2 separate regions of the Homo sapiens genome follow, and region 1 is linked to region 2. The links come from fine-mapping of genetic effects on gene expression. A gene starts in region 2. The other region holds a variant in brackets. All regions are shown on one strand. Distances are between the middles of the regions.

Region 1 (5,231 bases), 23 kb after region 2:
GCCCACCTCTGTCCCGGGGGGTCTGGGAGGCCTGAGGTCTGGCCAGGGGTTCCTTGCCCCAGTAGAGGAGGGAAGTTACTGAGAAAAACAAGGGTTTGGAATGTGAGTCCCCCTCCCCCACCGGCTGCCTGCCAAGAAAGAATTATTTTGGATCATCCAGCCGTGTCCAGTCACCCGAAGCGGGAGGCTGCAGCGTGGGAGAAGGATCCACTTCCGGGACGTGGGTTGAGGGCCCCAGGAGGAGGACGGGCAAGTCCGGGCAGCTCTGCCACTTTCTACTGCAGCTGCCCAGACTGGGCGGGGAGAAGATGCGTCACCTTTGGGTTGGAGAAAGCCCCAAGGTTGGCCCCAGCAGGCCCTGCTGAGCCTGCAGTGGGCCCAAGCCCCTCTGGGGGAGACCATGGAACAGGAGGAGCTCTGGGCCCACCCAGGGACCCCCTCGCCCCACCCAGGGACCCCCTCGCCCCGAGAAGTCTCAATGGTGGTCTGAAGAGCCTCTGAGGTACCCTCCAGGCCCAAGTTCAGGGACACACCCTGTGCCAGTGACCTGTGCGTGCCAGGGAGGAGCAGGCAGGAGCGAGGCTAGGCTGCTAGGGAGGGCACTGGGGTTTCCCTCAGGGGGCCCTCCTGCCCCAACGGACTCCCTATTCAGCTCCTGACTAACGGACCAGCCTCCCTCCAAGCCCCTCCGACAGCCAGTCCTTGCCTACGACCCCCTCTGGATATGGCGCCTGTGAGCCCATCCTGCAGGTGGGGAGACTGAGGCCAGAGATAGGTCTATGTGAGGAGTCATCTGCGATGCTGTGTGGCCAGGGCTGTGGCTACCTGGCGCTCTGGGTCCATGCTGTGTGTGCGCCCGGGGTGTGTGCCCGGCGGCCTGCATGGGGACCACATCGGGGAGGAGGAGCCGGCAGCTGGCCCCAAGTGCAGAAAGCCCAGAGCCTTGGACCCGGCCCAGGGAAGTGGAGCAGAAGAGATTGGATTGGAAGGTGGTGGGGAGGGCCCATATGGCACAGTCCTCCTCCCATCCCAGGACGTCGTCCGTGCTCACCGTGTCCTGCCCCCTGCCTCACCCTGTGCCAGCCACAGCTGATGGTCCCCCTGGGACGCGGGCGTGGGCAGGGGTGCACTGGCTGGGAGAGGCTGTGTCTTCCGGCCCCTCATATTGTGCCTTCTCTGAGCTAGGCAGGCACTTGGATGCCAGGCCTCTGCCACGAGGGCTGCCTTCCCCTGAGCTGGGAGTTCTCACTCAGCTCATGCCTCCGTCCCTCTGGCTGCAGCCTGGCCGCCCTCCTTGGAAGTTGGCGGGGAACCTCTTGTGCCCAGAGCCTGCCTTGGACACGGTTTGGGGATGAGGTGGTGAGCTGCTCAGAATTCACCCAGTGGCCAGCAAGTGGCCCCCCAGCCTTGACCTCCCTTCTCTGAGGCAGATCCAGGTTCTCTGGGGGTGGGAGATTCAGTAGGGCTGGGACTGGCCACAGCCCCTCCCTCCCTCAGGGGTAGTGGCTGTTTGTGTTTGGGGTGGGGCTGTGGGTGGGGTGGGGCTGGGTCTCTGACTAATTACACGATGGGGAGGGTGGGTCAGAGCCTTGGCTGGTGGGGGGTGCTCAGGCTCTGGGGCCCCGGGGAGGCAGCTGCCCTAGCTTCCCTCTTTCTGGTCGAGGTTCCTCCACCTTCTTCCTTTCCGTGGTTTCACATCCCTTGACACAGGGCCTGCTTCTTCCCATACCCCTGGATTGTAAGGACCCCTGCCTTTCTCTGCCTACCAGGGAAGGACCCTGCACTGTTCTGGGCTCCCCCAGCCACAGGTGTGGCCTCAAGCCAGGCCCTGACACAGTGGCCCTCCTGGCTCAGAAGCCTTCTCTCTGAAGACCAAGCGTGTGAAGGGATTGGCTGGGCCCCTCCCGTCTGGCCCTGAACACTGGCACCCCGCACCCCCCCAGTGGATCCACCCTGCCCTGTG[A/T]GATTCATGAACCTGTGACAGTGACTGGCCCCAGGCCCAGTGGTGCCGGGGATGGTGGGACAGGCTGCCCCTGGTGGTACTGCAGGTTTGCCCCACCCCCGGGGATGTCTGTCTGGGGAGGAGCCTGGGGCTGGCCTGGCTGTGGAGCTGGGGGTTCTGTTTCGCACAGTCCCGCCTCTGCAGCCCAGATCCTGGAGCCCTTCACACCCAGAGGCCAGCCCACACCGTGGCCCGCTATGGTTGGTGGCCTTCCCTGGGGGTAGCCCCTAAGGCCACACCTGAGCTGCCTCATGTCCCAGGCTAGGTGAGGGAGGAGACTGCCCTGGGCTGGGATCAGGGCGCCTGGGGGCAGGTCCAGCTCTCTTCCTCAGCCCCCTAAGGTCTCCTGGCTTCTGAAAGCCAATAGTTCCTCATTCCAGTGCCAGCTGAGTCCCGGCCCAGGCCTGGGGCAGGAGAGGGAGGTGCTGCCCCAGTTCAGCCACCAGCTCTGCCAGCAGGGTCCCAGCAGCAGCAGCATCAGAGGCAGGGACTGGGCTCCTGGGGGTAGGGCCCCGGCCCCTCTGGCACAGCTGGTCAGCAGCTTCCATGGGGGGCCCTGTGTGGAGACACAGTGTCCAGCACCGATTTCTGGGCCTGATGCTGCCCCAGCTGAGTCCCGCAGCAAGCGCAAGAGAGAGAAGTGCTTGGTGTCCACCTCTGAGAAGGCCTCCTGTGTGAACACGGCCCCCTGAGGGGCCAGGCAAGGGCGTCTGCTCCTGTGGCTGGGACGGTTCCTGCCCACGAGCCTTGTGTAGGGCTGCGGCTCTCTTCCCAGGTGACCTTCTGTTGTGGTCTGGGGCCCCCGAGCCAGCATGCCACCTGCTCAGAGACAGATTGGGCCCCCTGTCAGATTGGCGTCTGGGGGCACTGTCTGCTCCTTCCAGGCAGCTTTGAGGACTTCTCAGAGGAGGAACCCCCCTGCCCTGCTGGTCCAAAGTGGGGTGCTGAAGGCCGAGGCAGTTTCCAGGGGGCTATGCCTCAGGCTGCGTGGGTGGCTGTGGTAGGAGCGTGCTCTGTGATTGTCACTGCATTTGCCTGGGGTCCATGCTCTGTCCTCAGCTGGGGTCTGGCTTTGAACCTAGGTGAGTTCTGGGGCTCTGAGGACAGGCCAGAAGCAGGAGTGTGGGGGGGTCTCTCCTGGGGGAAGCAAGGGAGGCCTGGGCCTGTGTGACTCAGACGTGGTAGGGTGGCATGGGAGCCACAGCTTGGGGGGATGGCGGGGGGCTTGAGGGTAATCCAAGTATTTCAGGGACCCAGCCATGGAGAGTGGGGTTTGAGGACCAGCAGGAGGTGAGGACTCTGTGGATCCCAGCCCTGTCAGGTGTGTTTTCAGAGCTGGGGCCTGCTTTGGAGGAGATGGAGGGCACAGAACACTGCTGAGCCCAGGCCCTGTGCCCAGCCTTGCTCCAGCCTTACCGGCTTGACACCAGGGCCTCCCTCCCACCAGCGAGGGGGAGAAGCTATTTTAAGTGGAGCCAGCAGTTGACAGGGGCAAGGGGCAGGTGGTGGGAGGGAGGTGCTCCAGCATGGCCCCCCCCACTCCCTCTCAGCCTCAGAGATTGGCCAGGGGAGCTGAGGGGCTTGGCCTCCCCACTCCTATGTTGGCACCGAGCCTGATCTGGTGACCACCCTGAGGGACTTCAGGAGAAAAGGATGTTAGGGAGGAGGGCGTGAAGGTGGGGCGCCCCAGGCAGGCCGCCCAGGCCCAGCAAAGCTCGCTGGAGGGTCCCCCAGTTCCACATCTAGACCTGGGGCCCAGTGGCTCTCGACCAGGCCCTGTGGGGTTTGAAGTCCTCAGCTCCACCATGAGCAGAGCAAGCCTCCGCGTGGAGCAAGGGGCTGGACCTGGCCTCCAGGGGCACCCACCTCCCCACACAGCTCCAGCCACGGGCATCACCTCCCACTCACTGTCCTGCCCCCACTCTGAGATGGGCATTTCCTCACTGGGAAATCCCTGTCCCTCTGGCCTCCCAAAGCCCTGAGTGTTTGCCCCTGTGGGGCCCAGCCCACACCCTGGGCTGCCTCACCCTTGGCCTGGACCCAGGTCCTGCCCAACACCCTGTGCCTCACCAGCCCCCAGCTCATCCTGGGCAGACGCAGCCCCTCTCCCCTGCTGAGACGGCCCTGCCCCCACCCCACTTCCCCATGCCACACATGGCCCCTCCCTCGGGGCTCCAGGCAGCGCTGGGTTCTGAGAGCCCCACTGCCCCTCTTAGCCCAAGTGCCCCGGCCTGAGGCTTCTCTCCCAGGCTCTTTGTACTGGGGACGAGTTCTGGGTGTTGGGGTGAGACCCTGTTGGCAGGGCTTTTCCGGCAGCACCCAGCCATGTGTGTCTGCACATGTGTGGTCATGTGTGCAAGTGGTGTCTGGCACACAGGCTTGGCGCGGTGCCCCAAGCTAATTGTGGGGTTCAGCGGTGATGGGCGAGGCGGGGCTGGGGTGACCGCTGAGGCGCTGACAGGCTGACGGGGAGATTACAGGCCTTGCTTACTGCTCACTGGCTGGGGCCTCACCCGTCCACCCCCCAACGCCCACCCCGGGGGTGAGAAGGGGGCTGTGGGCGGGGGCTGGTCTTGAGCCAGCTGCATCCAGGCAGGACCTGGTCTCTGAGCAGCCGGCTGCTGCGGGGTTGAGCTGGAAAGGGGGAGATGCGTGGGGGCCACTCAGAGGAGAGCCTGCAGGTGGGGCTGGGCACCGGCGGGCCGGGAGGCCTCCTTTCAGGAGAGACTCCAAGTGACTGAGCCCCAGAATCCCACGAGAGTCCCTCCGTGGCCGCCTGCTGTCTGACCGCATGTCCTGTCCTGATGAGTTGGTGGTTCCTGCTGTAGCCATCGGCCTCGTGTGCCCCGAGCGCCTGGCGGTGCCCACCCCTCCCACAGGAGGTCCTCAGGAAGCACGGAGACATCGGTAGGTTCATTGCGCTGCCCAGCTTTCTGACCCGAAGGACCACGGTGTAGCAAGAGGGGGCTGCAGCTGTGCCCAGGTTGGACAGGATGGGGTCTGGGACCCCGAAAGGGGTGGTTGAGGAGAGAGGTGGTTCTGCAGGCCTGGTGCGTGTGGGGACAGGGCGCCGTAGCCAACTGGATCCCACCTTCTGTCTGAGGGCTGGGGAGGACCATCCTCCAGATGCGCCAGTGGGCCGTGGCCAGAGAGGAGGCTGAGGAGGGCCTCACAACTGTGTGTAGGATGGGAGGGCAGCCTGGGGCCCCAGTCTAGGGACGCACCATAT
Region 2 (5,472 bases):
TGATTCTCCTGCCTCAGCCTCCCGAGTAGCTGAGACTACAGGCACCAGCCACCACACCCGGCTAATTTTCTGTACTTTTAGTAGAGATGAGGTTTCACCGTGTTAGCCAGGATGGTCTCGATCTGCTGATCTGCTCGCCTTTTCGGCCTCCCAAAGTGTTAGGATTACAGGCGTGAGCCACCGCGCCCGGCCTTCAGCCAGTCTTTAATCTGGTCTGGAATAAAGTTCTGCCTCCTACCTCAAAATCAGAGTACATCTTACAATGATGGCATGCAATAACCACAGGGGAAAAAAATGCTCAAGACCATTAGTAATCAGGGAAATGCAAATCAAAACCACAAGAATACCCAGGCACGGTGGCACATGCCTGTAGTTACAGCTACTTGGGAGGCCAATGAAGGAGGATCCCTTGAGCCCAGGAGTTCCAGGCTGCAGTGAGCTATGATGACATCACTGAACTTCAGCCTGGGTGATAGGATGAGATCTCTTCTCTATAAAATAAACAAAATTTTAAAAATCACAAGATACCACTACCCACTCATTGGCTGGCTACAATGAAGACGCTTGGCAACACCAAATGTTGGGAAGGATGTGGAGCAAAGGAAACATAAACTGTTGGTAGGAATGTTTCCATTTTCTTTTTTTATCTTTTTTTGAGACAAAGTCTCGCTCTGTCACACAGGCTGGAGTGCAGTGGCTTGATCTCGGCTCACTGCAACCTCCACCTCCCAGGTTCAAGCGATCTCATGCCTTAGCCTCCTGAGTAGCTAGGATCACAGGTGACCGCCACCATGCCTGGCTAATTTTTGTATTTTTTAGTAGAGACAGGTTTTCACCATGTCGGCCAGGTTGGTCTCAAACTCCTGACCTCAGGTGATCCACTAGCCTCAGCCTCCCAAAGTGCTGGGATTACAGGCATGAGCCACCTCGCCTGGCCTGGTAGGAATGTTTTTAAATGTATGGCTGCTTTGGGGAAAGCTAAACATATACCCAGGTTATGCCTCAGCAATTTGGTTTCTATGCACGCCCAAGAGAAATGAAAATGAGCCCAGGCAGCACGAGACCCCATCTCCACAAAAACGAACAAAAAATAAAAATAAAAAAATAATGGGGTATGGCGGCGTGTGCCTGTAGCCTCAGCTACCTAGGAGACTGAGTGGCAGGATAGCTTGAGCCAGGAGATCGAGGCTGCAGTGAGCTGCAATGGGCCACTGCACTCCATCCTGGGAGAGAGTGAGACCTTTCCTCTAAAAATAAAAATAAAAGCTATACAGTCGGGCCTGGCATAGTGGCTCACGCCTGTAATCTCAACACTTTGGGAGGCCGAGGCGGGCAGATCACCTGAGCTCAGGAGTTCGAGACCAGCCTGGCCAAAATGGTGAAACCGTTTCTACCAAAAATACAGAAATTAGCCTGGCGTGGTGGTGCACGCCTGTAATTCCAGCTACTCGGGAGGCTGAGGCAGGAGAATCGCTCGAACCCAGTAGGCAGAGGTTGCAGTGAGCCAAGACCATGCCATTGCACTCCTGCCTGGGCAACAAGAGCAACATTCTGTCTCAAAAAAAACAACAGAAACAAACAAACAAAAAACAATACGGCCATGTGCTACTCAACGGTGAAGCTATGTCCTGAGAAATGTGTCATTAGGCGATTTTGTTATGTGACAAACCTAGATGGGACAGCCTACCCCACACCTAGGCCAGATGATCCGAACAACACGTGGTAATCTTTTATTTTTTTATTTTTGAGATGGAGTCTCACTCTGTCGCCCAGGCTGGAGTGCAATGGCGACATCTCAGCTCACTGCAAGCTTCGCCTCCGGGGTTCAAACGATTCTCCTGCCTCAGCCTCCCCAATAGCTGGGGTTACGGCGCTCGCCAGCCACCACGCCCGGCTAATTTTTGTATTTTCAGTAGAGACAGGGTTTCACCAGGTTGGTCTCGATTTCCTGGATTCGTGATCCGCCACCCCACCTCGGCCTCCCAAAGCGGTGAGATTACAGGCGTGAGCCACCGCGTCTGGCCAACACGTGGTAATCTGAAGGGACCACCACAGTATATGCGGCCCGCCTTCCACGGAAACGTCATGAGGCCCACGACTCAAAGGCGTGCCTCATTAAGTTACCGACAGCCCCAAACTCGCCCTTCCACGCCGGGCCTCAAGGTGCTCTGTGGACCACAGCGGGGCCCGGGGCCCTCGCGAGGGAGGGAAGAGTTCGCTCCAGGTCCCCGCGATTCCCCCGGAAAGTGAAACTGCAGAGGTGTTGCGTGGACACCCGCGGTCAGACACGACCCCAGGCCGCGCGGGCCCCAGAGGAAGCGAGCGCGAGTCCGCGGTGGTGGCTGGGCGCTCAGTGAGGACGCCATTCCGCCACGAAAACGCCCGCGACGCCGCTGGCCCCTGCGCGGTGGGGCGAGGTAGGCTGGCCGGACCTGCGAAGCCCGACGAGCCCGGCGCCGGCTGGCTGCAGCTTGCTCTGCCTCCCTGGCCTGGCCCCGAGGCTCCCGCGAGCCGGGATCCGCGAACACCGGGGCCGAACCGACTCTCTCGGGCCTCAGACGGCGTGGACCCTGGAAGGCCCCAGTTCGGCCGCTTCCCCGGAAGTCCCCCAGTGGGCTCCGGCCGCTCTGGCCCGCGCGCGTCCGGCTCGCTGGTGCCCTGGGCGGCGCCCGGCCGCTGGCGCTTCTCGGGCGCTAGGGGGCGCGCGGCCGCGCGGGAGCCGCACTGGGCCGCGGCGGCCGCTCGACTGTTCTGAGGAGCGGCCCGGACGCGCGCCGCCCCCGCCCGCGTTTCCCCGGCAACCCGCGGCCGCCGCCATGGACGCGCTGTTGGGCACAGGGCCTCGCCGGGCTCGCGGCTGCCTGGGCGCGGCTGGACCCACGTCTTCAGGTCGCGCGGCGCGGACCCCGGCGGCGCCCTGGGCGCGCTTCTCCGCCTGGCTGGAGTGTGTGTGCGTGGTCACCTTCGACCTGGAGCTGGGCCAGGCGCTGGAGGTGAGCGGGCGCGAGCGCGGGCGCGGGCGGGTGGGCAGGGCTGCGCCTCTCGGGGCCAGTCCCGCCTCGCTTGGGGCCCTCGGCCGCCCCGCACTCTCCCTGGCCTTCGGCCGCCGCCTCCTGGAGGGGCCTCTTCTCCGGGCTCCAGAAGCGCTCCCCAGGCCGAGGAGGGAAGGCGAGCTGCTCGGAGTCGGATCTTGTCTTCACATTGGGATGGAGCATTTTGCATAACCTAAGTGGTACTCTTTCGATTTTTCCCAGTAAATGTCTCACATCTCCCCCCTCCATTCCCCACCGGAGCAGTGACACCTTCATCCCCTCAGTGGCTCCCGCCAGAGTCCCGGGCTTACCCTCCGCTCCGCATCCCATCTCTGGGCATAGGCGAGGCTGACGGCTCCTTCTGCAACAAAGGTCTCGGATCCGTTCCTTTGCTGCCATCACTGATGTCATCCCCACCCCAGCTGCACCCCAGAGTTCAACCTTTGTGGCTCTCCTGCTTAAAACCCTGCAGCGCCTCCTTGTTCACCTAGCATCAGATCCAGACCCCATGGGCCCCGTCCCTCCACCTGCGTCTTGTGGTGTTCTTGCTCGTGGGGGTCTGTTCATCGGCTGTGCCCATGGGCTTTCGATGTGGTCTTTCTGCTGCCTGCAGGCCTCCACTCACCTACCCACACAGGCAGCCTCCTTTCCTCCAGGGAGGCCCCGCAGGATGATCTTCTCTGTGTCCTGTGTAACACACACCAGGGAGCTGACCAGCACAGGGGAGGCCCACCTGCAGATGGAGGGAGGCTTCCCCGCGCTGGCGCAAGGAACCTCGTGAGGGGTAGTGAGCTCTCTATTACCGCAGGTGTCCAAGATCAGGCCAAATCATCATCATCAGGAAAGCCAGGCAGCGCGTCTCTGTGGTTGGGAGATGCTTTCTAAGGCCCTGCTGAACTCCAAGAGGCCATGAGAAGCATATAGTCTTCTAAACAGAAAAGCATTAACTCTAGCACTCTCTGGAGCCCCTCCCACCACACACGGTCCCCAGCAGGTGCACAGCCTCAAACAGCATCACTGGGTGGGGGCTGAGTACCAAGAAGTGTGGTGACCTGCCCAGGGTTGAAAACCTTTCTTAGTTCAATACTGTTGCCCAGATTGTTCCCCACAAAATCACAAAAGAAGTTAAGAGGTTCCTGGCCGGACGCGGTGACTCATGCCTGTAATCCCAGCACTTTGAGAGGCCGAGGCAGGCAGATCACAAGGTCAGCAGTTTGAGACCATCCTGGCCAACATGGTGAAACCACATCTCCACTAAAAATACAGAAATTAGCCGGGCGAGGTGGCACACTCCTGTAGTCCTAGCTACTCGGGAGACTGAGGAGGAGAATGGCTTGAACCCGGGAGGGGGAGGTTGCAGTGAGCAGAGATTGCACCATTGCGCTCCAGCTTGGGCGACAAAGTGAGACTCCATCTCAAAAAAAAAAAAAAAAAAAAAGGAGGTTCCTCTGTTCCTTAAGACATTCTCGTGTTATTTTCTAAAACCCATTCGGAAAGTTATTTCTGAGCTGTTGAAGGCTGTGTGTGCTTGGACTCCTGAGCTTTTGCTGGGGATGCTCAGCTCGGACTAGGGGCATGGTCAGCTGGCAGAGTGTTGGGGACCCAGGTCCATGAGCGAAACCCTCCATAGCAATGATCTGGGCACCTGCAGATCACTGAGTCTGTGCAGAAACCTGGCAGTGGATCCACCGGGGCCTGAGCACATGACTCTTGCCTTTCCTCCCTCACCTGGAAGTCACAGGGAAGATCGAGGTCGTTTTAGTCACTTACAGACTTAGGGAGCACCCACTGTGCAACTCAGTCACAGCTCAGCCCAGCTAAGCACTGCAAAGCCCCAGGACTGTGCTTGGTTCTGCGATATGGAAGGAAGACTCTAGTTGGGATGCATGCAGCTCAGAGGAAGGAATGGGCTTAGGTAAATAAGTCTTGGATGCTGAGAAGAGACAGGGGAGGGGGTCCTGTTTCAGGTAACCCCTCTCCCAAAATGCCAACATAAGCAAAAGGCAAGGAGCTGGTGATTCAGTTACTCATTCAGTAAATCACTTTGAAGGCTGGGCATGGTGGCTCACGCCTGTAATCCTAGCACTTTGGGAGGCCGAGGCGGACAGATCACCTGAGTTCAGGAGTTTGAGACCAGCCTGACCAACACAGAGAAACCCTGTCTCTACTAAAAATACAAAATTAGCCGGGCGTGGTGGCGCACGCCTGTAATCCCAGCTACTCAGGAAGCTGAGGCAGGCAAATCGCTTGAACCCAGGAGGCGGAGGTTGTGGTGAGCCGAGATCGCGCCATGGCACTCCAGCCTGGGCAACAAGAGTGAAACTCTGTCTCAAAAAACAAAACCGTAGATCACATTGAGCAGCTATCACCAGCCCAGCCCCACAATACTGGTGCCCAGCATGTAAGTGAGTAGACAAGGCTCTTGCCCTTTAGGAGTTCA

What was found.
Region 1: its variant is fine-mapped to the expression of DENND6B in whole blood (TOPMed, PIP above 0.99).

What each region holds. Positions count from the first base shown.
Region 1 is chr22:50,301,025-50,306,255 of GRCh38, reverse strand. The region is part of intron 1 of PLXNB2 (plexin B2); the gene reads left to right. Among named protein-coding and RNA genes, the nearest start is that of PLXNB2, 4.0 kb to the left of the region's middle. RefSeq lists enhancers at 1-367, 1-956, 4,703-5,231 and a silencer at 4,516-4,565. The variant A/T (reference allele first, on the strand shown) is at 1,964.
Region 2 is chr22:50,324,333-50,329,804 of GRCh38, reverse strand. It overlaps DENND6B (DENN domain containing 6B), which reads left to right and starts at 2,793. Exons shown (of 20, transcript NM_001001794.4): 1 at 2,793-2,993. The coding sequence starts at 2,817. RefSeq lists a silencer at 2,405-3,044.